3 separate regions of the Homo sapiens genome follow, and all the other regions are linked to region 1. The links come from fine-mapping of genetic effects on gene expression. A gene starts in region 1. Each other region holds a variant in brackets. All regions are shown on one strand. Distances are between the middles of the regions. Region 1 holds the start of CD177 (CD177 molecule). Region 2 has its middle 9.8 kb from the start of LINC03078. Region 3 has its middle 18 kb from the start of PSG9.

The links.
Region 2: its variant is fine-mapped to the expression of CD177 in whole blood (INTERVAL, PIP above 0.99).
Region 3: its variant is fine-mapped to the expression of CD177 in whole blood (TOPMed, PIP 0.96).

The regions. Positions count from the first base shown.
Region 1 is chr19:43,349,195-43,357,069 of GRCh38, forward strand. It overlaps CD177 (CD177 molecule), which reads left to right and starts at 4,492. Exons shown (of 9, transcript NM_020406.4): 1 at 4,492-4,572; 2 at 4,659-4,799; 3 at 5,013-5,198; 4 at 6,467-6,589; 5 at 6,798-6,914. The coding sequence starts at 4,521. PRG1 (p53-responsive gene 1) reads left to right here. Exons shown (of 1, transcript NR_026881.1): 1 at 1-354.
Region 2 is chr19:43,317,812-43,325,686 of GRCh38, forward strand. No RefSeq gene overlaps it. Among named protein-coding and RNA genes, the nearest start is that of LINC03078, 9.8 kb to the right of the region's middle. The variant G/C (reference allele first, on the strand shown) is at 3,531.
Region 3 is chr19:43,283,923-43,291,797 of GRCh38, forward strand. It overlaps the pseudogene CEACAMP11. Among named protein-coding and RNA genes, the nearest start is that of PSG9, 18 kb to the left of the region's middle. The variant C/A (reference allele first, on the strand shown) is at 3,778.

The sequences.
Region 1 (7,875 bases):
ACTCCAGCTTTACTTCTCCTTCCCAGGGCTCAGTTTTCCTCTCCTTGAAGGGGATGAGTGGAACCAGCTCTGGACGCTGAGCTGCCTGGGTGTAAAGGCTTCCTGTAATGGGCAGAAGAGTGGATAGGAGGGCAGCAGGGGAGCTGGACCAAAAGCATCATGTGATTTGCCGTGATCACAGAGGATTTTCTGGAAGTAGCTTGGGCACAATGTGTGCAAGGAGACAGAAGGGTCTCGTGGTGGGGAATAGGACATTCACACAGCCTCCTCCATGGCTTACCTCACACAGCAGTTGTTAATTAGCCAAGAATTTGACAAACAGGCATTAAAGGCCTTCTGAATGTGACACACGACACCCAGCTAGAAGAATATTGCCAAAAATCATTAAAACTACTCTAATCATAGTCTGAGTCAGACACATCCAGGTGGTGGAAGACTTTACAAAAAAAAAAGAAGTGAACCATTGCTTTCAATGACATTAAAGAAAATGAAAGGCAGGTGGGGAGCACTCCTAGATTAAAGGGGAGTCCAGAGATGAGATGTAAACCAAAAGGTATCTGAGACAGGTCTCCATCAACTTAGAAGCTTATTTTGCCAAGGTTAAGGACATAGAAAAAACCATGCAATCATAGAAACAGTCTGTGGTCTGTGCCTTTTTCCAAAGATAATTTTGAGGACTTCAATATTTAGGGTGGAAAAGCTGGCTGGCGGTGAAAGAAGGAGGGTGTGGTCGCATTACTGAATCCACATGGTGTAAGAGAAAGCAGGAGGTAGGGGAATAATCAATCACGTATTCATCTCACGCTCAGTAAATTGGCACCTTGAGAAAGATAAGGTGAATATGGCCGGGCGTGGTGGCTCACACCTGTAATCCCAGCACTTTGAAAGGCTGAGGTGGGAGGATCTCATGAGCCCAGGAACTTGAGACCAGCATGGACAACATGGCAAAACCCATCTCTACAAAAAAAACCACAAAAATTAGCTGGGCGCGGTGGTGGGTGCCTGTAGTCCCAGCTACACGGGAGGCTGAGGTGACAGAATGACTTGAGCCCGGGAGACAGAGGTCGCAGTGAGCCAAGATCGTGCCACTGCGCCCCAGCTTGGGAGACAAAGTATGATACTCTCTCAAAAAAAAATAAATAAGTAAAAATTTTTTTAAAGAAAGATAAGATGAACATAGAGTAGCTACCTACGGAGATACTTAACCTTTTCTCTGTAGCTGTCTGCTTAGGAACAAAAGGAAAGGCAGTTTCTTGCATGACTCAGCTTCCAGTTTTTTTTTTTTCCTTCTGTCACAGTGAATTGGGGTCCTGAGTTTTTGTTTCTCTTTCATAAAGACAACGCAGTGCAGTTCATGCTTGACCCCGGATGTTCTCCTGATCAGAAAGCAAAAACGCAATGAGAGATGTCATTGGGACAACAGAGGAAAACTGGAAATGGGCTTCCTATTAGACAACAGTGCATCTGTGTAAACTACACGGGTCTGATCCTGGTCTGTGGTTACGCAGGACAAAGTCCTTAAGAATAATCTATATAGGCTGGGCGTGGTGGCTCACACCTGTAATCCTAGCACTTTGGGAGGCCGAGGCAGGTGGATCACCTGAGGTCAAGAGCTCAGGACCAGCCTGGTCAACATGGTGAAACCCTGTCTCTACTATAAATACAAAAATTAGCCGGACGTGGTGGCAGGCGCCTGTAATCCCAGCTACTCGGGAGGCTGGGACAGGAGAATTGCTTGAACCTGGAGGGCGGAGGTTGCAGTGAGCAGAGATCACGACACTTCACTCCAGCTTGGGTGAGAGAGCAAAACTGCATCTAAAAAAAAAGAGAGAGAGAGGAAAAAAAAGAATGATATATGCTTTTTAAAAATTTTTTTATTTATTTATTTTTTGTGATGGAGCCTGGCTCTGTCACCCAGGCTGGAGTGCAGTGGTGTGATCTCGGCTCACTGCTGCAACCTCCACCACCAGCTTCAAGTGATTCTCCTGCCTCAGCCTCCCAAGTAGCTGGGATTACAGTTGTGTGTCACCATGTCCAGCTAATTTTTATATTTTTAGTAGAGATGGGGTTTCACCATGTTGGCCAGGCTGGTCTTGAACTCCTGACTTAAAGTGATCCTTCCAAAGTGCTGGGATTACAGGTGTGAGTCACTGTGCCCAGCCCCCTTAAGAATAATCTTAAGAAGGTTCTTGCTGAAGCACTTAGTGGTGAGAGTTACAATGTCTACTCCTTGTTTTTAAAATTTAAGAATATTTTAAAAGCATATGTTGTGTGTGTATAAACAGATACAATAAAATGTGAAGAGTGGGTGAATCCAGTGAAGGGGATACTTGTGTTCACTGTACTATCCTTGCAACTTTTCTGCCGGTTTGAAATTTTTCCGTCTTTTTTTTTGAGATGGAGTCTTACTCTGTTGCCCAGGCTGGAGTGCAGTGGTGCGATCTCGGCTCACTGCAACCTCTGCCTCTTGGGTTCAAGCGATTCTCCTGTCTCAGTCTCCGGAGTAGCTGGGACTACAGGTGGCTGCCACTACACCGGGCTAATTTTTGTATTTTTTTTTTAAGTAGAGATGGGGTTTCACCGTGTTGTCCAGGTTGGTTTCAATCTCCTGACTTCAATAGATCCACCCGCCTTGGCTTCCCAAAGTGCTAGGATGACTGGTATGAGTCACCGCTCCCAGCCTGAAATTTTTCAAAATGAAAACACCGCAGGTCAGGAGTTTGAGACCAGCCTGAACAACATAGTGAAACCCTGTCTCTATTGAAAATACAAAAATTAACCAGACATGGTGGTGTGCACCTGTAGTCCCAGTTACTCGGGAGGCTGAGGTGGGAGAGTTGCTTGAGTCCAGGAGATGGAGGCTGTAGTGACCTGCAGTGAGCTACAACTGCACCACTGTACTCCAGCATAGGTGAGAGCAAGACTCTGTTTCTAAAAAAAAAAAAAAATTACTGGGCATGTACTGTATGCCATGTAGGTGGTGGAGACATAGCAGGAGATCAGACAAACACTTCCCTGTCTGTGTGGCAAATATTAAACTTGCAATAAACTTGCAAAGACAAATAAAGATAAAATTTATAGAGATGTCAAAAATAAACATATAATTGCAAGTCACATTCATTTCTCTTTCTCTGCTATTCCTGCTCTCGCCTTCCCTCTTCTGCTTCTCCTCTCTCCGTCACAGACACCCACAACGTCCCTCTGCAGTCACTGACAGATACCCCAGGTTCCTTCCTGTCTTCCTCCCCGCCACCCCAGTGTGTTACAGCTGATTTGTACAGCCCTGGACAAGCCCATGGTTAAATAGCTAGGGATTTCATCAGCCTGGTTGGCAAACTGTAGGTAGCTTAAAATCAGACATGCTATGAGTATTTACACCAGAGAAATAGGCCAACACTACGAGGCAGGATTTGTGGGTATTGTTTTTCAGAAAACTTGGTTTTTCAGCACAACACTGCTCTCCCATCGGCTTCCAGCAAATAAATGTTGCATTTTTCAGATATATCCTAATTCTTTCATAGATATTCAGTCTCTACTCCACCTCTGGCCAAGCCTTTCCTGGTGGTAGGAAACTGGGGACTTGAGTCCTATGTTGTACTGTGAGGGTAGAGAATAGAAGAGAAAGCATGAGAGAAAAGCATGAAAAGAAGAATCAAAAGAAAGCAATATAAGAAGGAAAGAGAAAGAACAGAGAAGTGGGAAGACAGTGGAGGGTAGAAACTAGGACCGGAAGACATGGGGACAAGCTGATGCCCACTGCACAACGTCCTCACAGGTAGTTGGGCCATTTCCCCATCTGGGGTACAGAGGTGGCCAGGGAGCCCATGAGAAATGAGGAAACTGCCTTCCCAAACTACTGGAGAAAGAGGGTGGGGGTGGTGATCCACATAGCTGGGCTCAGGAGGAAAGAGGGCTGGGAGTCTGGACCGGGGGAACCTCGGGTCAAGATGCCACAGTTTCTAACTATGGAGGGCCTGGGGGCCTGGACTCCTGGGTCTGAGGGAGGAGGGCCTGGGGGTCTGGACTCCTGGGTCGGAGGGAGGAGGGCCTCGGGGCCTGGACTCCTGGGTCTGAGAGAGGGAGGCCTGGGGCCTGGACTCCTGGGTCTGAGGGAGGAGGGGCTGGGGGGCTGGACTCCTGGGTCTGAGGGAGGAGGCACTGGGGGCCTGGACTCCTGGGTCTGAGGGAGGAGGGACTGGGGGCCTGGACTCCTGGGTCTGAGGGCGGAGGGGCTGGGGGTCTGGACTCCTGGGTCTGAAGGAGGAGGGGCTGAGGGGCTGGGGGTCCTGGACCCTCCATCTGAGGGAGGAGGGGCTGGATGCCTGGACCCGAAGGTCTGAGGAAGAAAGGGGGTCCCTGATAGGCCACTGCGGCCATTGAGACTTGGGGTGGGGCCCAAGCCTCCATTTTGCAAGGCCCTCCCCTCCCCACCCTTTTCTGGGCTGGCTGCTTAAGGGCTGGTATAAAGGACTTGTTTCCTGCTGAAAAAGCAGAAAGAGATTACCAGCCACAGACGGGTCATGAGCGCGGTATTACTGCTGGCCCTCCTGGGGTTCATCCTCCCACTGCCAGGTGAGTGATGAGCCCAGCCTGGAGGAGATTCCCTGGAGGCCGGGCAAGGGAACCCTGCTGAGATGGATTTGCTCTTGCCACTCCAGGAGTGCAGGCGCTGCTCTGCCAGTTTGGGACAGTTCAGCATGTGTGGAAGGTGTCCGACCTGCCCCGGCAATGGACCCCTAAGAACACCAGCTGCGACAGCGGCTTGGGGTGCCAGGACACGTTGATGCTCATTGAGAGCGGTGAGAAGGCCCTGGCGTGCAGAGACCCCGCCCTGTCCCCTCAGTCCCTTGATCCCTGTGCAGGGACCCGGGAGCCACCCCTCCGGGGGATCGACTCCTAGGGTCCCGGTGATCCCCTTTCCAGCCTCTCAGCCTACGCCGTGTAGCAGCGTCTCCCTCCAGGACCCTGGAGGCCTGACCTCCATCCTCGCTTGCCTCCCTCTTTCGGTCCAGGACCCCAAGTGAGCCTGGTGCTCTCCAAGGGCTGCACGGAGGCCAAGGACCAGGAGCCCCGCGTCACTGAGCACCGGATGGGCCCCGGCCTCTCCCTGATCTCCTACACCTTCGTGTGCCGCCAGGAGGACTTCTGCAACAACCTCGTTAACTCCCTCCCGCTTTGGGCCCCACAGCCCCCAGCAGGTGCCTGCGGGAGGGTCGGGAGGAGAGGGAGGGGCTGCTAGAAGGGGATCCGCTGAGCACAGAGGGGCTGTTACGGAGTCCCTCCCACCCTCGCTCGCTATCCCGACCCTCGCTGGCTCCATCCCTCCCCTGACTGCTCCCTGACCATCGCCCCGCCCCGCTCCCTTTCCATCCCTCCCCACTCACTCCCGATCCCTCCCACCGACCTGCCACCCGGGAATCCCCGCACCCCTCCTCTTCTAAGAGCAAACAGGACGGATTTCTGATATGAAATCACCATTAACTGGGTTATCCTGCATTCTTTTTTTATTCTGTTGCGTTTGGTTCAAGAAGTTCTCCTGCAGGGTTTTTGCTATTTCCTCTTCCTAAGGGAGACTGAACTGTAACTTTCCACTTTCCTTGTCTGGTGTTATAAAGAGTCTAGGGAGATATTTTGCGCTTCTTTTATTGGAACAGCTTGTGAACACAGAAGTCTCCTGTTCTTGGAGGTTTAGTAGCGCTTGCAGGTGAAGGCACTGGCTCGTTCCAGGGCACCCCCTCATTCCCTTGACCAATGAGTCTGCTTCTGTGTCTCCCCTCGGAAGGCCAGACTTTGTTGAAAGGTTCAGACTTGACCATGTCTGAGTCTACATTTGGCCTCAGCAGGCCCCTCCTCCACCCTGCCCACCCCCCACCCCCACTTGCCACCCAAGACACCCCCCCTTTTCTTTTCTTTTTTTTTTTTTTTTTTTTTTTTTCTGAGAAAGCGTCTCGCTGTGTCGACCAGGCTGGAGTGCAGTGGCGCAATCTCGGCTCACTGCAACCTCCGACTCCCGGGTTCAAGCGATTCTCCTGCGTCAGCCTCCCACGTAGCAGGGACTAGAGGAGCCTGCCACCACGCCCGGCTAATTTTTGTATTTTTAGTAGAGACAGGGTTTCACTATGTTGCCCAGGCTGGTCTTGAACTCCTGACCTCGTGATCCACCTGCCTCAGCCTCCCAAAGTGCTGGGATTACAGGTGTGAGTCACCACACCCAGCCAAGACCACTTTCTGTACCCAGCCCTGGGTGCCTCTACCCAGACCTCCTGTTCATTCTCCCTTCCTCTTTTATGGATTACACTTCTTTATTTTCCCACATCCAGATCCCATGATGGGAGCTGCAGAAGGCCCCTTTGGGAAGGCTGAGCAGGTTGACTCTTGAGGCCAGCAAAAGTGGGGTGCAGAGAAGGTATCTGATCAAATCCAGTGCCCTCTCAGTGCCCCCTCACTCTGTCTGTCACTTTCCTAGACCCAGGATCCTTGAGGTGCCCAGTCTGCTTGTCTATGGAAGGCTGTCTGGAGGGGACAACAGAAGAGATCTGCCCCAAGGGGACCACACACTGTTATGATGGCCTCCTCAGGCTCAGGGGAGGTAAGCCTGGGACATCGGGGTCCCTGTGGGGACTGAACTGGAAGGTCTGGGGACTGAGATCTTAGGCTTTGGGGAGTGAGGTGAGCTGAGGCACGGCATGAGACCCAGAGGAGGGTGGGCCTGGCTTCCTGGAGCTATGCCTGCCTCTGAGGGTTGGGTGGTCCTGGAGGCAGCATCACTGACTCTCCCTCGCTCCCCCTTTCTGCAGGAGGCATCTTCTCCAATCTGAGAGTCCAGGGATGCATGCCCCAGCCAGTTTGCAACCTGCTCAATGGGACACAGGAAATTGGGCCCGTGGGTATGACTGAGAACTGCGATATGAAAGGTGAGTCCTGCCCCTAGGCTGTGCCCTGGACTGCAGCCTCGGGGCACGATGACACATGGGGCATCCAGAGCCATCACACCAAAGCCAGCAGGAGGAAGGTCAAGGGTGCAGGGTGGGTTGCTTGGCATGTGGCTTTAGGCAACAGTGAGTGCTGGGGCCCCTGCTGGCTCTCAAGCTGCTGAGAGTGACTGGTTGCTTCAATTTCTGTGTCTCCACACCCCTGGCCTTGGGTAACCCTAGGTCTCCCACTTCCCTAGGCCACCGTAGCCTCTCTCCCACCCGTATCAGCCCCCGCCCCGCTCATGGTGCTGGAGTGCCCCAGCAGCCTTGCCTGCACAGGAGAGAACATCAGAGAGAAAATCAAGGGGACTTTGGGTGTGACAGAGAAAGCAAGAGTTAAAGGAGGACACTGAGAGGGTCCCCACTTACCCATTTAGGTGCTGCCATGGAAGAGAGTGCCAGGGAATGTCTCCATAAGAAGGGCTCCAAAGCAACAGGAAGCCATGGTGGGGAGGTGGGGGTCTTATAGGAATCCCAGCTTCCCTCCTAGAAGCAAAGTCTTCCCTGCCCCTGCCTCAGTTTCCTTGTCTGCCCACATCACGCTAACCCTTAGAGCTTAGAAGAGAGAGTTGTGTGAGCTCTGCACACATTCCTCTGTGTATTTGGCTGTTTCTCCCTAGCTAGGCTGGGAGCCTGAGGCTAGGGGCTTGGTACCACTGGCACCAGGGTTTCCAGCCTTGGGTAGCTCAGGAGACGGCTCAGGAAGGGTACCAGGAGGTGTTTGCTCAAGTGAGGACATGCAGGGCTCACTTGAGCAAAGCTCCCTCATGAGTCAGACCCTGTTTCTACCTGAAGGGCCTCCAGGACTAGGAGGGGGAGGTGCTACAGACACAGATGGTCACAGCTTGAGGTGATCAGGGCTGTGGCAAACGGGGATGTGGGGCCTGGGGCAGCTCAGAGG
Region 2 (7,875 bases), 31 kb before region 1:
AGCCCTCTTGCATGGGAGAGCTTTTATACAACCAGAACCAGAAAATATGCATTGAAAATAACAATTGAATGAAATCTCATTATAAAATGTTTAAATGGACCAGCAGGTGACCAAGTGTACCTGAAGCTTTGATTGTTTTCCCAGGAATATGGGGCCAAACATTGGTTATAAATTCTTTTAACAATTTATAAGTCACCACACCAATATATTCCATTTGAATATTTTTATCTTTTCCATGATGAGTCATGGAATGCAGAACTTTTAATAATAAAAGCTTTAAGGACTTAGGAAGGACAAGGTGGCCATCCTGGTTCTCCATGAGTCCATGCTTAATTAATATTAGACTCATATCCTCTTGAATCATAGTTTTTCTTCAAATTATGTGCATAGCACTGATAACTGATGGGTTATCATAGGTAATTTGACTTAGACCATGACGTTCATTCAAATTGTATATCTAAGTAATTTTAATGTCAGCTGATGTAGCATGAGTGCTGATTGGTTAGGTAGGAGATGAAATCATGGGAAGTTGAAGCTGTCCTTTTTTGCTGAGTCAGTTCCTGAGTAGAGGTCACAAGATCAAATGACCCATTTTATCGATCTGGGTGGGGCCAGCTCATCCATCCATCAAGTGCAGGGTCTGCCAAATAGCTCAGACAGATCTCAGGAGCAGTTTAGAGAGGGTCAGAATCTTGTAGCCTCCAGCTGCATGACTCTTAAACCGTAATTTCTAATCTTGTGGCTAATTTGTTAGTCCCACAAAGGCAGTCTTGTCCCCAGGCAAGAAGGAGGTTCGTTTTGGGAAAGGGCTGTTATCGTCTTTGTTTTAAACTGTAAACTAAATTCCTATTAAAGTTAGTTCAGCCTATGCCCAGGACCGAACAAGGACAGCTTGGAGGTTAGAAGCAAGACGGTGTTCATTAGGTTAGGTTAGATCTCTTTCACTGTCTCAGTCATAATTTTGCCAAGATAGTTTGAGGAGAATCAAATTTTAAAGAAAGACACATAATAGTGTCACGGCTAGCCTTAAATATTCTCTTGACTAACTTACAGAGCAAAAATCTAGCCTTAAACAAAGTTAAGTTTTTTGTAATCTCAAATGACTTGCTTTAGATCTCCTGAGGCAATAAGGATTAAAGCCACTTCACCATGTCATCCAGTAGTTAAAATTCCACACTTTCACTGTTGCAGCCTGGATTCAATTACAAGTCAGAGAATGAACCGCTTTTGTTACAGGAAAAAGGTCCCAATCCATGCCCAAAGAGAGGATTCTTGGATCTTGCACGAGAAAGAATTCAGGGCAAGTCTGCAGCGCAAAGTAAAAGCAAGTTTATTAAGAAAGTAAAGTAGTGAAAGTACAGCTACTCCATAGTCACAGTAGGATGTTCTTGAAAGTAAGAGGAGGCACACACCCACCCTAGGTACAGTGCTCATATATATGGGGAGATGTACCCTGCTACAAAGGTTTGTGATAAGGATTAATTTTCTTAATTGTGATATTTTGCAAGAATCTAAGTTATTATCTTTAAAGCAAAATTAGGAATCACTTTGTTTTCCAGATATTGGGATATCTGGACACTCCCAAGTCTGGGTCTGTTTAGTAAATATTATTGATTTGTTCCCTTAACCATAAACATCTAGAGGCTAGGAATGCCTCACTTTCTGGAAATGCAGCCCAACAAGTCCCAGCCTCATTTTCCCAGCCCTCACTCAAGATGGAGTCACTCTACTTCAAATGCCTCTGCCACTTTTGTTTTGATATTTGTGTGATTTTTGAGTTTTTGTGGTACTCATTTACATCTTTGGAGATGTCTCATGCATCCTTGGCTAAGTCACAATTATGGTTAGTGCTTATCAGTTTCAGCTGGGAGGATACTTTTGGTTAAAAAAAAATTCAAAAGCCAGAAATATCAGCTGTTTGTCCTAGCTAAAATCTGATAATAAAAAATCTGAAAGTATTACAGTGGGTAGCTAGTCAGACATCAGCAGGACAGGAGGGAGCCTCCTTCCCCCACACACCAGGAATGTCATGACCATCAGGTGATTGTCAGGTGGTCGTTAACTGTCTCTCTAAAATAATAATGGGTTGTAGCTAGCACCAGGGAAAGGCAGTCTCCCAATAGACAGGAAACACCTGAAACAGTTGATCAGCTCCTTCCTGATAAGTTCTCAGAAGTTGGGTGAGTGGGCTAAAACATGTGCATTAAGAGGCAAAATGGTGGAGTTTAACTGGTTTGTGACCTCCCAGGGACATTTGACTGGAAAGAGAAGAACACCTCAAGTGAGCATGCATACAACTCCAGTAAATACACTGCGCATGTTCACCCCACCCCAAGTGCTAGCAGGCCACTGCACATGCAGACAGCCCACTCCAAAGGGAAAATAAGGGGAGAGGAGATGCAGACCCCAGAATTATGCCAACATACAAAAGCCTAAGTCAGAGGTCAAGCAATGCACTTGATCTCTTGTTGCCTGCTTGGCTTTTTTATTTTTTTATTTTTATTTATTTATTTTTTTGCAACAGAGTCTTGCTCTGTCACCCAGGCTAGAGTGCAGTGGCATGATCTCAGATCACTGCAACCTTCGCCTCCCAGGTTCAAATGATCCTCCCGCCTCAGCCTCCCTAGTAGCTGGGACTACAGGCACATGCTACCACACCCAGCTAATTTTTGTATTTTTGGTAGAGACGAAATTTCACCATGTTGGCCAGGTTGGTCTCAAACTCCTGACCTCAGGTGATCTACCCATCTCGGCCTCCCAAAGTGCTAGGATTACAAGTGTGAGTCACTGTATCCAGCCTGCTTGACTCTCTTTTAATTGTACTTTACTTCCTTTAATTCCTGCCTTAAAGCTTTTAAATAAACTTTTACTCCTGCTCTAACACTTACCTCAGTCCCTTCTTCTGCCTTATGCCTCTTAGTCAAATTACTTCTTCTAAAGAGGCAAGAATTGAGGTTGCTGAAGACGTCTACAGATTCACTGCTGCTAACATGCTTTGGTGTCATTTCTCAGCTATGTTTGGCAGCTAAGAGAAGGATTTCCCAAAACAGCTCTGTGATTAAGAGTCAGCTTAATTAAAAACTGGTATTTAAGCCATATATTTATTAATGGTATTTAAGCCATATAATTATTAATATTTATAATATTAAGCCATGTATATATTAAAATAATATATATATAAAATATTATATATATATAGAATATGTATATACACAGAATATATAAATTCATATTGGATATATATTGAGAAAGGACTTGAATGTATATTGAAGGCTTTTCTGCTTTTCTCTTTTGTATCTTTTTTTTTTTTTGAGACAGGCTGTCACTCTGTCACCCAGGCTTAAGTGCAGTGGCACAATCTCAGCTCGCTGCAACCTCCACCTCCTGGGTTCAAGGGATTCTTGGGCCTCAGCCTCTTGAGCAGCTGAGATTACAGGCACGTGCCACCACACCTGACTGATTTTTGTATTTTTACTAGAGACTGGGTTTCGCCATGTTGCTGGTCTTGAACTCCTGGCCTTGAGTAATCT[G/C]CCCGCCTCAGTCTCCCAAAGTGCTGCCATTACAGATGTGAGCCACTGCCTCTGGCCATCTCTTTTGTATCTTTGAAAGATTTTTTTTCAGTTGACTGAAATCTTTTTAAATCATGTGCTTAGTCTGTCTGGTTTTTTTCTTAAAAATTCTTTTTCTGCTTATTTCTCTTTCCATCCTTCCTCTTGCTATTCTTGATGCCACATGAGGGAACCTAAAGAATTTCTGACAGCCTGGAACCCCTTAAGGAAAACAGAAAAGATGCCACAGACTTCCCTATTTAGGAGAAACCACTGTTTTTCCTCATGGAACCCCAAGAGTTGTAAGTAAATGGATTCCTCTCAGGTCTAAAACTCTGCTCTCTTTTCCATTTTCCCTGACCTCTTTGGCTTTTGGGGGCATCAGAGATTACTTTGCACTGTAAAAATGCTTGACCTTATATGTGTGATGGCTGCTGGGTCACTGGTAAGAGCTTTGGTTTTGGAGGTGACTAACAGCGCTCGCAATAAATGATTATTACTTCAGAATGCTACTCATTTCTTTGCAAGTTTAGATAAGAAATACACAGTTTAAATAATTAGAAAAATGCCCTTATAGCAAAGTACACTGTGGAAGTGTTGCATAGTATGGTTCCATTGGCATTTTCCTCTTCTCAGGGACCTGGGATTCAGTGAAATCCTTGATTTATAAAGGTCTGGATGCTGTCCCTTGCAACTGGGTCTTCTTTTTATGTATTTAAATTATTAGGATCTAAAAGTTGCAAGACTTCGTTGGTCCTCTTCCTTAATGGGCTCTGTCCTGAGCTCAGTGGTCCAGTTGGAAAACAGAGACCAAATTAAAAGCTGCCTATCTAAATAAAATTGGTCTCCTTATAAAATCCTATGGTAAATTTCTGTCATTTTTGTGTTACCTTGGCATCTATTTTTAATCTTCCTTGAACACACACAAATTCCTTCTTGTAAAAGCTTTAGTTCTCTTTCTCTCTGTGCTTTGAGATGTAAATTTGCTACCAATTTTCTCTAAAACTCAATAAAGTCTGGCTTAATTAAATGTTAACCTCTTCCATTTACAAAGGCACAAATTTAATCCAACTGTCTTTTTTAAATACTGAATTTGATCGGTCCTATGCTGAAATCAAAACTCTAAACTCTTTCTGCCTCCCTCTATCTTTATGTGCACATGTGTATGTTATATGCTGTATCACATATATGTCTATGTCCATACATATGATTATATGTTGTTTACATACATGGTATCAAATTAATGTAAAAATAAGTACTCATAAATTAAGTAAATAATCCCAAATGCTTTTCAATACATGTGATTTTAGTAATCTTTGGTAAATAAAGATAGTTTAAAAATTATTGGTAAAATGAAGTAGAAATGTCTTCAGATTTAATTTAGACATTTGTGCCTGGGTCTGTTGGCAGACATTTTTATATTGTATTTACTAGATGTTTTAGGGTCATCATATGGTTGCTTCTGTATATATACATTTTCTTAATTTTTCTGTGACCTTATATCTTTAGATTTGAGCCTTTAGATTCTGAGTTCTAGATGAGCGACCATAGCAAGAACTGGGGACAAAACTCATCCCATCCCACAGCTGTGCCTTTTGGCCATGCTGGAAGAGATTAGATTCTCCAGGTATAATCTTCATAGCTTTGCTGTTTATCTTGGGCTTTACACCTGGTAACTAGTTAGAATTGCTTACTTCCTGTTTTTTCTCTCCTGAAAATAATGCTGTATTTGTTTGTTCTCACATTGCTACTGAGAAATACCTGAGACTGGGTAATTTATAAAGAAAAGAGGTTGAATTGGCTCATGGTTTGGCATGACTCTCACATTTGCTCAGCTTTTGAGGAGGCCTCGGGAAACTTACAATCATTGTGGAAGGCCAAGGCAGAACAAGGCATCTCACAGGTGAGAGCAGGAGGAAGACAGCAAGGGTTACACACTCTTAACCAGATCACCTGAGAACTCACTGTCACTAGGAAAGCACCAAGAGGAATGGTGTTAAACCATGAGAAACCATCCCCATAATCCAATCACCTTCAACCAGGCTCCACCTACAACTTTGGAGATTACAACTTGACATGAGATTTGAGTGGGAATATAAATCCAAAACATATCATTCTTTCCCTGGTTTCTCTCAAATCTCATGTCTTTCTTTTCATACGTGTCCGTGTGAAGAGACCACCAAACAGGCTTTGTGTGAGCAACATGGTTGTTTATTTCACCTGGGTGCAGGTGGGCTGAGTCCGAAAAGAGAGTCAGCAAAGGGAGATAGGGATGGGGCCATTTTATAGGATTTGGGAAGGTAATGGAAAATTACAGTCAAAGGGGGTTGTTCTCTGGTGGGCAGGGGCGGGGGTCACAAGGTGCTCAGTGGGGGAGCTTCTGAGCCAGGAGAAGGAAATTCACAGGGTTAATCACTCAGTTAAGGTGGGGCAGGAACAAATCACAATGGTGGAATGTCATCAGTTAAGGCGGGGCAGGGCCTTTTCACTTCTTTTGTGATTCTTCAGTAACTTCAGGCCATCTGGGCGTATACGTGCAAGTCACAGGGGATGCGATGGCTTGGCTTGGGCTCAGAGGACTGACATTCCTGCCTTCTTATATTAATAAGAAAAATAAAACAAAATAGTGTTGAAGTGTTGGGGTGGCGAAAATTTTTGGGGGGTGGTATGGAGAGAGAATGGGCGATGTTTCTCAGGGCTGCTTCAAGCGGGATTAGGGGCGGGTGGGAACCTAGAGTGGGAGAGATTAAGCTGAAAGGAGATCTTGTGGTAAGGGGTGATATTGTGGGGTTGTTAGAAGAAACATTTGTCATATAGTATGATTGGTGATGGCCTGGATACAGTTTTGTGTGAATTGAAAAACTAAATGGAATAAGAAGGAGAAAAACAGGTATAAAAGGTCTAAGAATTGGGAGGACCTAGGACATCTGATTAGAGAGTGCCTAAGGAGATTCAGCATAGTCCTGCCAGCAAAGATTATTTATTTACTTCAAGAGTTAAGAGTGGCAGTTTGGGGATAGCACGAGGAGATATCAGCTGTGATGGCTTGGAGAAACAGTGTAAACTGGCAGTGTGAACAAGAGCAGGGCATGTGTGAGTAGTTGAGAATGGAGAATAGGAATATGACTAGACAGAAAATAGTAGGGATGACAAGTTTTCTTGGGGGCACAGTCTAAGTTGGTCCAGTGTCTGGAATGAGACTGGGGCCTAATAAAAAGGAGCATCTATACAGGAGCTTAAATGGGCTGTACCTTGTAGCATTCTGAGGACAGGCCTGAATTCTGAGAAGTGAAAGTGGTAAAAGTATTGTCCAGTCCTTTTTAAGTTGGTGGCTGAGCTTGGTGAGGTGTGTTTTTAAAAGACCTTTAGTCCGTTCTACTTTTCTTGAAGACGGAGGACCGTAAGGGATATAAAGGTTTCACTGAATACTAAGAGCCTGAAAAACTAATTGGCTGATTTGACTAATAAAGGCTGGTCTGCTATCAGACTGTATAGAGGTGGGAAGGCTAAACTGAGGAATTATGTCTGACAGAAGGGAAGAAATGACTGTGGTGGCCTTCTCAGACCCTGTAGGAAAGGCCTTTACTTATTCAGTGAAAGTGTCTATTTAGACTAAGAGGTATTTTAGTTTCCTGACTCGGGCATGTTGAGTAAAGCTAATTTGCCAGTCCTGGGTGGGGGCAAATTCTCGAGCTTGATGTGTAGGGAAGGGAGGGGGCCTGAATAATCCCTGAGGAGTAGTAGAATAGCAGATGGAACACTGAGAAGTTATTTTCTTGAGGATAGATTTCCACGATGGAAAGGAAATGAGAGGTTCTGAGAGGCAGGCTAGTGGCTTGTACTATAGCATAGCCTGCATTTGCTGGTATGTGGCGATTAGGCCTGGTGGAACTGCCATCAATAAATCAAGCGTGATCAGGGTGAGGAATAGGAAAGAAGGAAATACAGGGAAATGGGGTGAATAGCAGGTGGATCAGAGAGATACAGTCATGGGGGTCAGGTGTGGTATCAGGAATAATGTGGGAGGCCAGATTGAAGTCCGGGCCAGGAACAGTGGTAATTGTGGGACTTAACAAAGAGTGAGTACAGCTGAAGGAGCCGGGGAGCAGAAAGTGTATGCGTCAGGTATGAGGAAGAAAATAGATTTTGGAAGTTGAGAAATGTAGAGAGTGAGTTGAGCATAGTTTGTGATTTTCAGGGCCTCTAAAAGTATTAAAGCAGCGGCAGCCGCTGCACACAGACATGAGGGCTAGGCTAAAACAGTAAGGTCAAGTTGTTTGGACAGAAAGGCTACAGGGTGCGGTCCTGGCTCTTGTGTAAGAATTCT
Region 3 (7,875 bases), 65 kb before region 1:
ACCCAGGTTTGCCTGGGACAGAAAGTCATGGCCAGCTTGGGGGTCCAGGGGTAAGTGTCTTCATACTTGGACCTGAGAGGGACTGAGAGGCCTGGCCTCGTGTTATGTGGATTTGGGCTGGCAGCCTTGTCCATGAAGGAAAAGAGGATACTCACAGAGAACATCCAGGTGACTGGGTCACTGTGGCTGGTACTCACTACATTCTTCCTTTGACATTCATAGAGTCCTGTGTCACTCCTTGTGACACTGAGTAGAGCAAGGACCCTGTTATCATTGGACATCTTTAGCCTGGGACTGAGTGTGAGTCTATGACTATTTACCCACCACATGTAGATTGTGCCATGAGTCTCAGGTTCACAGGTTAAGACCACAGCCTCCTCATCCTCCGCGGGGTTGCTGGTGACATAGGGCTTGGGCAGATTCACTGTGCAGATAACAGAGAAGATTCCCCTGTGTGGCACCATTGATTTCTCCACGAGCATTTTCCAATCAGAGTTGACATCTCCCACCTCTCAGCCAATCCAAGTCCTTAAAAGCCCACAGCAGTTCTGTGTGTCAAAAGACAGATGGATGCATGATGATCTGAGGGCTCAGAGACCATGGGGCCACCTGCTCTGTGTGGGAGATGCACAGACTTCTGAACTGTGAATCAAGCAGCAATACTGGTGAACTGTGAATTGAGCAGGGTCATATAATTAGAGTTTGATTAACTTTGTTTAAATTGGGCAGAGTCTAAGTGAGGCAGCAGTGGCTCATGCATCTCCCCACCCGAAGGACCCCACCTTATGACACTGTTGTTATTATGAGTACACAGGTGTGCATGAAACAGGCAGTAAATCAAACAGCACCCACCTGGCCAGCTCCACCTGGTCCTAGGAACCACCAGTATTCCCATTATGTGTATGTTACAGCCTTTGTAGGCTACAAAATATAAAATACAACTTCAGAATATAAAATATGCTATTGTCAATACCAAATATTGAATATGAAGCTGAATATGTTGTTCCACTTTTTCTCACTCTTGTTAAACTTTGCTGTTTCAGTTTTGGAAGTTCCTATTGACACACACTTAAGCTAGAGATTCTTTCCTCAGCTGTGGGCAGCCTACCAGTAAGCCCATGCAGGGCATTCTTTATTTCGCTTAAAGTGTTTTTAATCTCTAGCATTTCTTTTGCTTCTTTCTTAGAATAGCCATCTCTCTGTTTAAATCACCCATCTATTCCTGAAAGGTGTCTCCTTTTTCCATCATAATCCTTAACCAGAGTTGTTTTAAATTTTCAGTCTGATAATTTCAACATCCCTACCACATCTGTGTCTGGTTCTGATCCTTGCTCTGTTTTTCAAACTGCATTATTTTTTTTTTTTTTTTTGCCATAGTCTGTCTTGTATTTTTTTGAAAACCACACATGATGTACTGGGTAAAAGGGACTTGAGTGAGCAGGCATTCAGTGACATGGTGGTGAGTGAGGGGAGGGAAGGGTTCTGTGGTTCTGGATGAGATCTGTGTCCTGGGCTGTGAATGTCACAAGTGCCTCTCAGGTTTTTCTTTCCATTAGGTGGGATATGATGACTTGAGGAGGCTGGAGTTGGATATTTCCCCTCCCCCTGGCCAGTTAAGCTCCCATCAAACCCCAGCTAATTAGGCTGCAGTAAAATAGTTCCTCTTAAATGTAGGTCTTACCAAGAAGAATATAATTCACTGACAACTTTCCAAGTGTTTTTTTCCCTTCTCTCCTACAAGAAGGATGCAGGGATTCTTTTTGGATATTGACTGTGAGAACCTGGTAGAGCTCCAGGAGCTAAGAGTCATAAAACTGTCCCCCTACTCCCAAGGCTAATTCATCCACTGGTGTGTTTATCTCTGCGCTGTGTCCACACTGAGCCTCCAGAATTTCCTCAATTAGAGTTGAGGTTTTCTGACCCCAGCACTGGTTCCCGCTGAGGTTTCTGTGCCTGTGTTTCTGCTCAGGTACGGTGCGCTGCTCTGTATTTGCCTGTGGGTCTCTTCAATATGTGGGCCAGTTAGCACTGAGACCTTGCTTCTCTGACAAATCTAAATGAGTTGTTGTTTTTTCAGTTTGTTCAGCTTTTTACTTGTTGTTAGAACTGAGTGAAAATTTTTAAGCTACTTACATGCCTGGCGGAAATTCGAAGTCTCTAGGGCATGACTGGAGGATATGAGCCCCACAGCAGGTTGAGGATGGAGTCATGAGTGAAATGGGTGAAATGAGCCCATGGGCTTTGGAAACTGCAGGTCTGTCCTTCAGCGTCTGACCACCTGGTGAGTCTATGTAGAAAGTGAAACCACCTTTGCAAAGCATATGATGGTGAGAGGAAGCTAGCTTGGCTGACCCCATCTCACCTCTAGCCTCAGGCTGGGTGTCCTCTCTGATTCTTGGGCATAGGCCAGGGTAAGCATGGAAGGAATTTATAGTTTAACTTTGACGCAAGGATGATAATAGTCCCTCCCTAAAATTAGCTCCCTCCTTGTCGGGGACTACCGTGGTAAATCTAAGAAAAGACCATGAATTATGCAGGAGCCCAAATTCTGCTAAAATGCAGGCATAGTTTCTATAATCCCTTACTGCTCAGGAGTCATGTGTCCAGAGGTCACAAGATTTGTGACTTTCCTAGTTGCTCCTATAGATAGCAACACTATTGTAGAATCTGAGATTTGTCTTTGGAGATGTTTCTCAGATTTTTGCATTCCGGCAACCAGCTGACCTCATCTAGACTCATGACCAATGGCTCAACCAGTCATGTGGCCCCCCACTCAGAGGCAGATTCAACAAATACAGACCATTTCCCCTACCGGCATCATTTCATCTTTAGCCAGTCAACAGTACTTATTCCTTAGAACTTTGCCCCTCAAAGTTTTTGAAAAACTCTAACCTCTGAGCCACTGGGGAAGCTGATTTGAGTCATAATAAACTTCTATCCTCCTGTTTGGCAGCCTTGGGCTAAGCAAAACCATTTTTTACTACACATCACCTTCACAATAAATTGGCTTTGCCTGCGCAGAGGGCAAGAACCTGTCAGGTGATTATAAGAATGGATGGAGGAGTCACTGATCTCTTTCTGGTGGCCTGTTTCATGAGTCAGCCTCTCAGAGGGAAAGAGCCCTGGACTGCGACACAGTGGAAGCTCATTCTCTTGGTGACCCAGGGACATTGCCTTATTATGGATCCTGGCAGGGGTGGCTGCTTTGGCTGATTTTGGTGCATTTTACATTTCCCAGAAGGCAGGACAGGCCTAAGTGTGAGCAGAAAGGAAACGGGGCAGTCAGCTTTGTTAGAGAGGGTGTCTGGGGAAGTCCTCAGGGTGGAGGAAGCTGTGCAGGACAGGGCTCATCAGGTAGAATGAAAGAGGGATGCACTTTTTTCACTGAACACCTTTCAGACATCTCACCAACTCTGGCCTCACTGGGCTGTGCCTTTCCTCCTGAGCCCTGAGCCCTGATTCCTGGCAGGGAGGGAGAAAGAGAGGAAGGGTGAAGCTGGGATGTGTGCTGTCCAGGTTTCTTCCATCTCTAGAATCTTGACAGCGAGGGACCCTAATGTGTTACCACAGAGGAGACCATGGGAAAAAGCTGTTTCTCAGGGGTGCCTGGCTTATGAAGTGAGGGAAATTCAGACCGAGTTGGACTCCTGAACTACAGGGAACCTGTTCCATGTCAGCAACCAGCTCCTCTAGCTCAGTGTTTCTCTCTGTGGCTAATTCTTTTGTATGGTTTCTGAGCCTATGCTAGAGTCCTCCTCACGATGCATGATGGTCAGA[C/A]CTGTGTGGGGAGACCTAATGATGGGGTGGGGGTGGTCTTGAGTGTCACACAGAGTGTCCAGGGAACAGGCTTTGTGACTTTCTCTACCCCAGCCCCACAACAAGATCTGGATAGTGGGCTGGGTCAGATAAAGTCAGAATCCATGGGGAAGGGTATGTGTCCTGGCAGTGCCGAGGTTCGTGCCTCCAGGTTAGCTCTGAGTCTCTGCAAATACATTTATGTTGTGCATGTGCTGTTTGCTGGACGGTACTTCTTGAACCTGTCTGCAGATAATGTCATGAGAGGTCTGCATGGAAGTGTATGAGGGCTATGTGATTAGGGTGGGTGTGTTTTACACAGCGGGTTTTTTTTTCACCAAACACTTTTCAAAAAATTGTGGTTGAGTGTGTATATAGAAACACATACATACTTGTATTTGTTAGATGTGAATATATATTCATATAAATTTGACATGTAGATACATATGTCTATAAATATACACACATATATATGTGTGTATGTATATGTGTATATGTATATATATGTATGTGTGTGTGTGTATATATATATATGTGTGTATATATATAATGTGCCATTTTAACCACTTAACTTAAGGAGAGAGATAGAGGGAGAGAGAAGAGAGTTTCTACTAATACCAAATCTGGGTTAAATAAGGGTGGTCTTATTTCCTGGGGTTGGGCTTTTGCTACATGTGTCCTGTTGGAAGTGAGCTAGAGAGGTTACATGCTTAACCAATTTAGAGATTTTCTATATGAAAATCATCTGTGAGCACATTGATAAGTTTTATCCTCTTCTACGTGAAAAGCTTGATGAAGGATTTTAAGGATTTCTCGTTGGCTGAAGGCTGGCAAACGGAGTTTGCCATCCTCTGACTACAGCCATTCTGAGGACTGGAAAGGATACCCTGAGAAGTGGCCTATTTTATTTCTGCAGGAAGGTACTGAGGTTTAATTTATCTTATGGAGTCTTCCTAGATTAGAAGGCTTTGAGGTGTGTTGATGCCTTGCCAGTGACTTAGCTGCCTGATCAGTGAACCTATTTCTTTTGGCTACTTCATCTGTTCCCTTTTTGATGTTCTCTATAATGTATCACTGCTATTTCTCATGAAAGAAAACTGACGATAATAACCTGTTAATTTTTTGGTGATATTTTATAGGAAGTCCATTAGTGGTAAGAAAATGCCTTTTATTTTAAATGGCAGCATGAGCATGAAGAACTCAAAAAGCATACTTGGAATCAGTGTAAATGTTAGCTACCTTTCCCTTGCTTAATTTAAGTGCTCTTGTATTAACTGTTTGTTTAGCTGATTGAGCACCTGCACCTGAAGAGAGATATTATTTAGAGTGACTACTGCTTATCCTACCTTACGTATTTCTTGCTTTACCAGCTGATTGTTAGCTAAGAGCTCCCTCTAGAGGAAAGTAATTTTGCCACATTAAGTGGGGGTGTAAACCGTTTTTTCCTAGGGTTAATTTGGAGGCTTTTCTGATTAGTAGAGCTATTGTGACAGTGGTTTGGAAGCAGATGTAAAAAATAGGTCCTCCTAACTGCAAATAAGAGGCTGAGAAAAATATTGGATTAGAATTTTTCCTGAGACACCCCTTATGGTTGTGCTATGGGAAGAGGGGAGGCCTGGATAAGAAAGGAGAAAAGAGAGAGACTAGATCTAGTGTTTAGAAGGAGGTCTACTTTCCTCCCTATAATTTCCAGAATGACCTGTGTCTCCTGTGCTGTAATGGCAGTTTGAGCTGCTGGAGCCAGGGGTTTGAGCCCCAGGACCCATCAGTCCTGCTGGACCACTGTGAGACTGGTTCTGAACCCAGTGACCTCCATCTCTGGGAGCAGTTGCATCTCCAGTGGTCTCCACCACAGGCTGGACAGGGTCAAGGTGGCTTCCTCTTGCTCTTTGGACACTTCTTCCTCAAATGCCCTGGCTTGCCACACCGAGAGCAACTAGTGGATACACCTCTGGGATCCTGGACTTTGCAACTCTGCAAAGCAGCTACTAGAGGCTTTGTCCTTCTCTTGAGCTTTCTCTCTTTCTTCTGGGCCTTCTCCTAGTCCCTATTATAAAAGACTGAAGTGGCTACCCTCAGAAGGTTTTCCAAGGTGCTATCTGCTACTATAGCTTGCCTTTTATAGGTTCCTTCTAATATTGGGAGCTTTATGTATAATAAACTTATCTTTTGGAATGGGCTGTCACTTGACTGAATCAGGAGATAAAAAGGTGTGTGCTAATAGTGCCCCTCTCAACCTATCCATAAAGGCTGCAGGATTCTCATCTGGCTTTGAGTCTATCCTAGACAGTTTAGAGGAATTAAGAGGTCTGGCCTTAGTTTTTCTTTTTCATTCATCTACAGGGCTATTGGGGTTTCAATCAGGGTTGTCAAGAGGTACTGCTTCACTTACTATTTGGAATGGTGTTTCTGCTATTTCTTCACTTTCTGTATCTCCTTCCTTCCCTTTTGGTGTATTATAGGAGATATGTTGCTCATCTCCAAAATTCTCTGCTGCTTGCAGAGCTGCCTGTTTTTCAGCTGCAGTTAGGGTTTGGATTAGGAGCAGTATAACATCCTTCCATGTGAGGTGAAACACCTGACTTAAATTCTGGAAAGCTTCTATATACCTGTCAGGATTGTCTGAAAATTGGCCTAAGTCTTACTTTATTTGCCTAAGGTCCTGTAATGAGAAGGGAACTTGGAGGGACCCCAAATTATGGAGATTCTCAGATGGTTCCCTTGGAAGTTGCTTTTCTAATTCTAGGATATTATTCTTTATAAGCCTGCCTGATATGGCTGTTAAAAAATCTGGGTTGCTGTTACAATGCTTGTAAAGGTTTAGTAAAAATGCCCTGTCATTTTGCAAAATAGAATGAGTTGCTTTTCTCTTGAAAGTCCTGAGGTTAAAAGAGTTCTAGTGCCTCAGAGTGCGCTCCAGAGGGGTGCAAGCTGAAGATGCTCTGTTAGCCATTGAGAAAAAGAAGTGAGAATAAAAGTGTCCTTATAGTCCTCCTTATTTCATTGAGACCCAGAGTGGAGTGGAAGACAGTGGGAGCGTCCCCCCAACTGTTTTCTCTCCTTGGTTCCTGAGTCCCGGCACTATGTTAAATGTGCTGCCCATGGTTGTAGGTGTGGCCCTGTAAGCCATGGAACTAGATAAATGAAGTGATGGGATTAGCCACACTTTACCCATGCAACATTAGCTTATCTGCCTGTGATCTGCCTGGCTTCCTGAAAAATGGATCTCTCGAGAAACTGTAACAGTTGCCTTTGAGCAAGCTTTCTTTAACAGAGGGAATGTGCCAGTTGCCAGATACGTGCTAAAGCATTTACCCTCAGAAAAGTGGTCCTGGTTAACTCTGTTCTTAAAGTATCCTTACTAATTAAATACTGTTCTAATTGGAGATAGAATAGGTACTTTAAATGAATGTAGGGACCTAATGGCAGTTTTTCCTGCTGATGCAGCAGTATCAGAACTAAAATTTGGCTATGGAAGACATTTTACTCCTAATTGTTGAAAGCAGAGCTTTCCCATTCACAGAAAGGGCTTTTCTATCAGTGCAAAAAGAGAGAATTGGAAAAGTGCAGTGTTATGGCAAAGGACCAACAATGTGCCTTATGAGGAGGATTTCTATTTCTACTAGATGACATTGTTGGCTTAGAAATACCACGTGCTTACCAAAGGAAGGAGAGAGAGAGAGAGAGAGAGACTGAGACACCTATTGGGTTAGTTATTATAGCATTTACCGATCTTTCCTAACAGAACTGTTTCCCTGAACTGTAAAAATTTCCACATATTGCATACACAGAAAGAATAGGAGACATAGAGACCATGGATAGAAAGGAAGAACAAATTTGCAACAGGATAGCAAATTAGGAGACCCATTACCAACATCTGGATGGGCTGCCGGAGGCTGTGTTCAGTCCAGAAGCCTTTGAATAACATCAGGGTGTGTCCTGGCCAGAAATTCTCAGCTGTTCCAGGACATCCCCCAGCCTCATGTGATGGTGAGGTTCTCCATGAAAGGAAACTAGTTGGAAGAGAACCTTGAAATTAAAGGACAGATTTGAGGTTTGCTCCATACTCACCATTCTGAT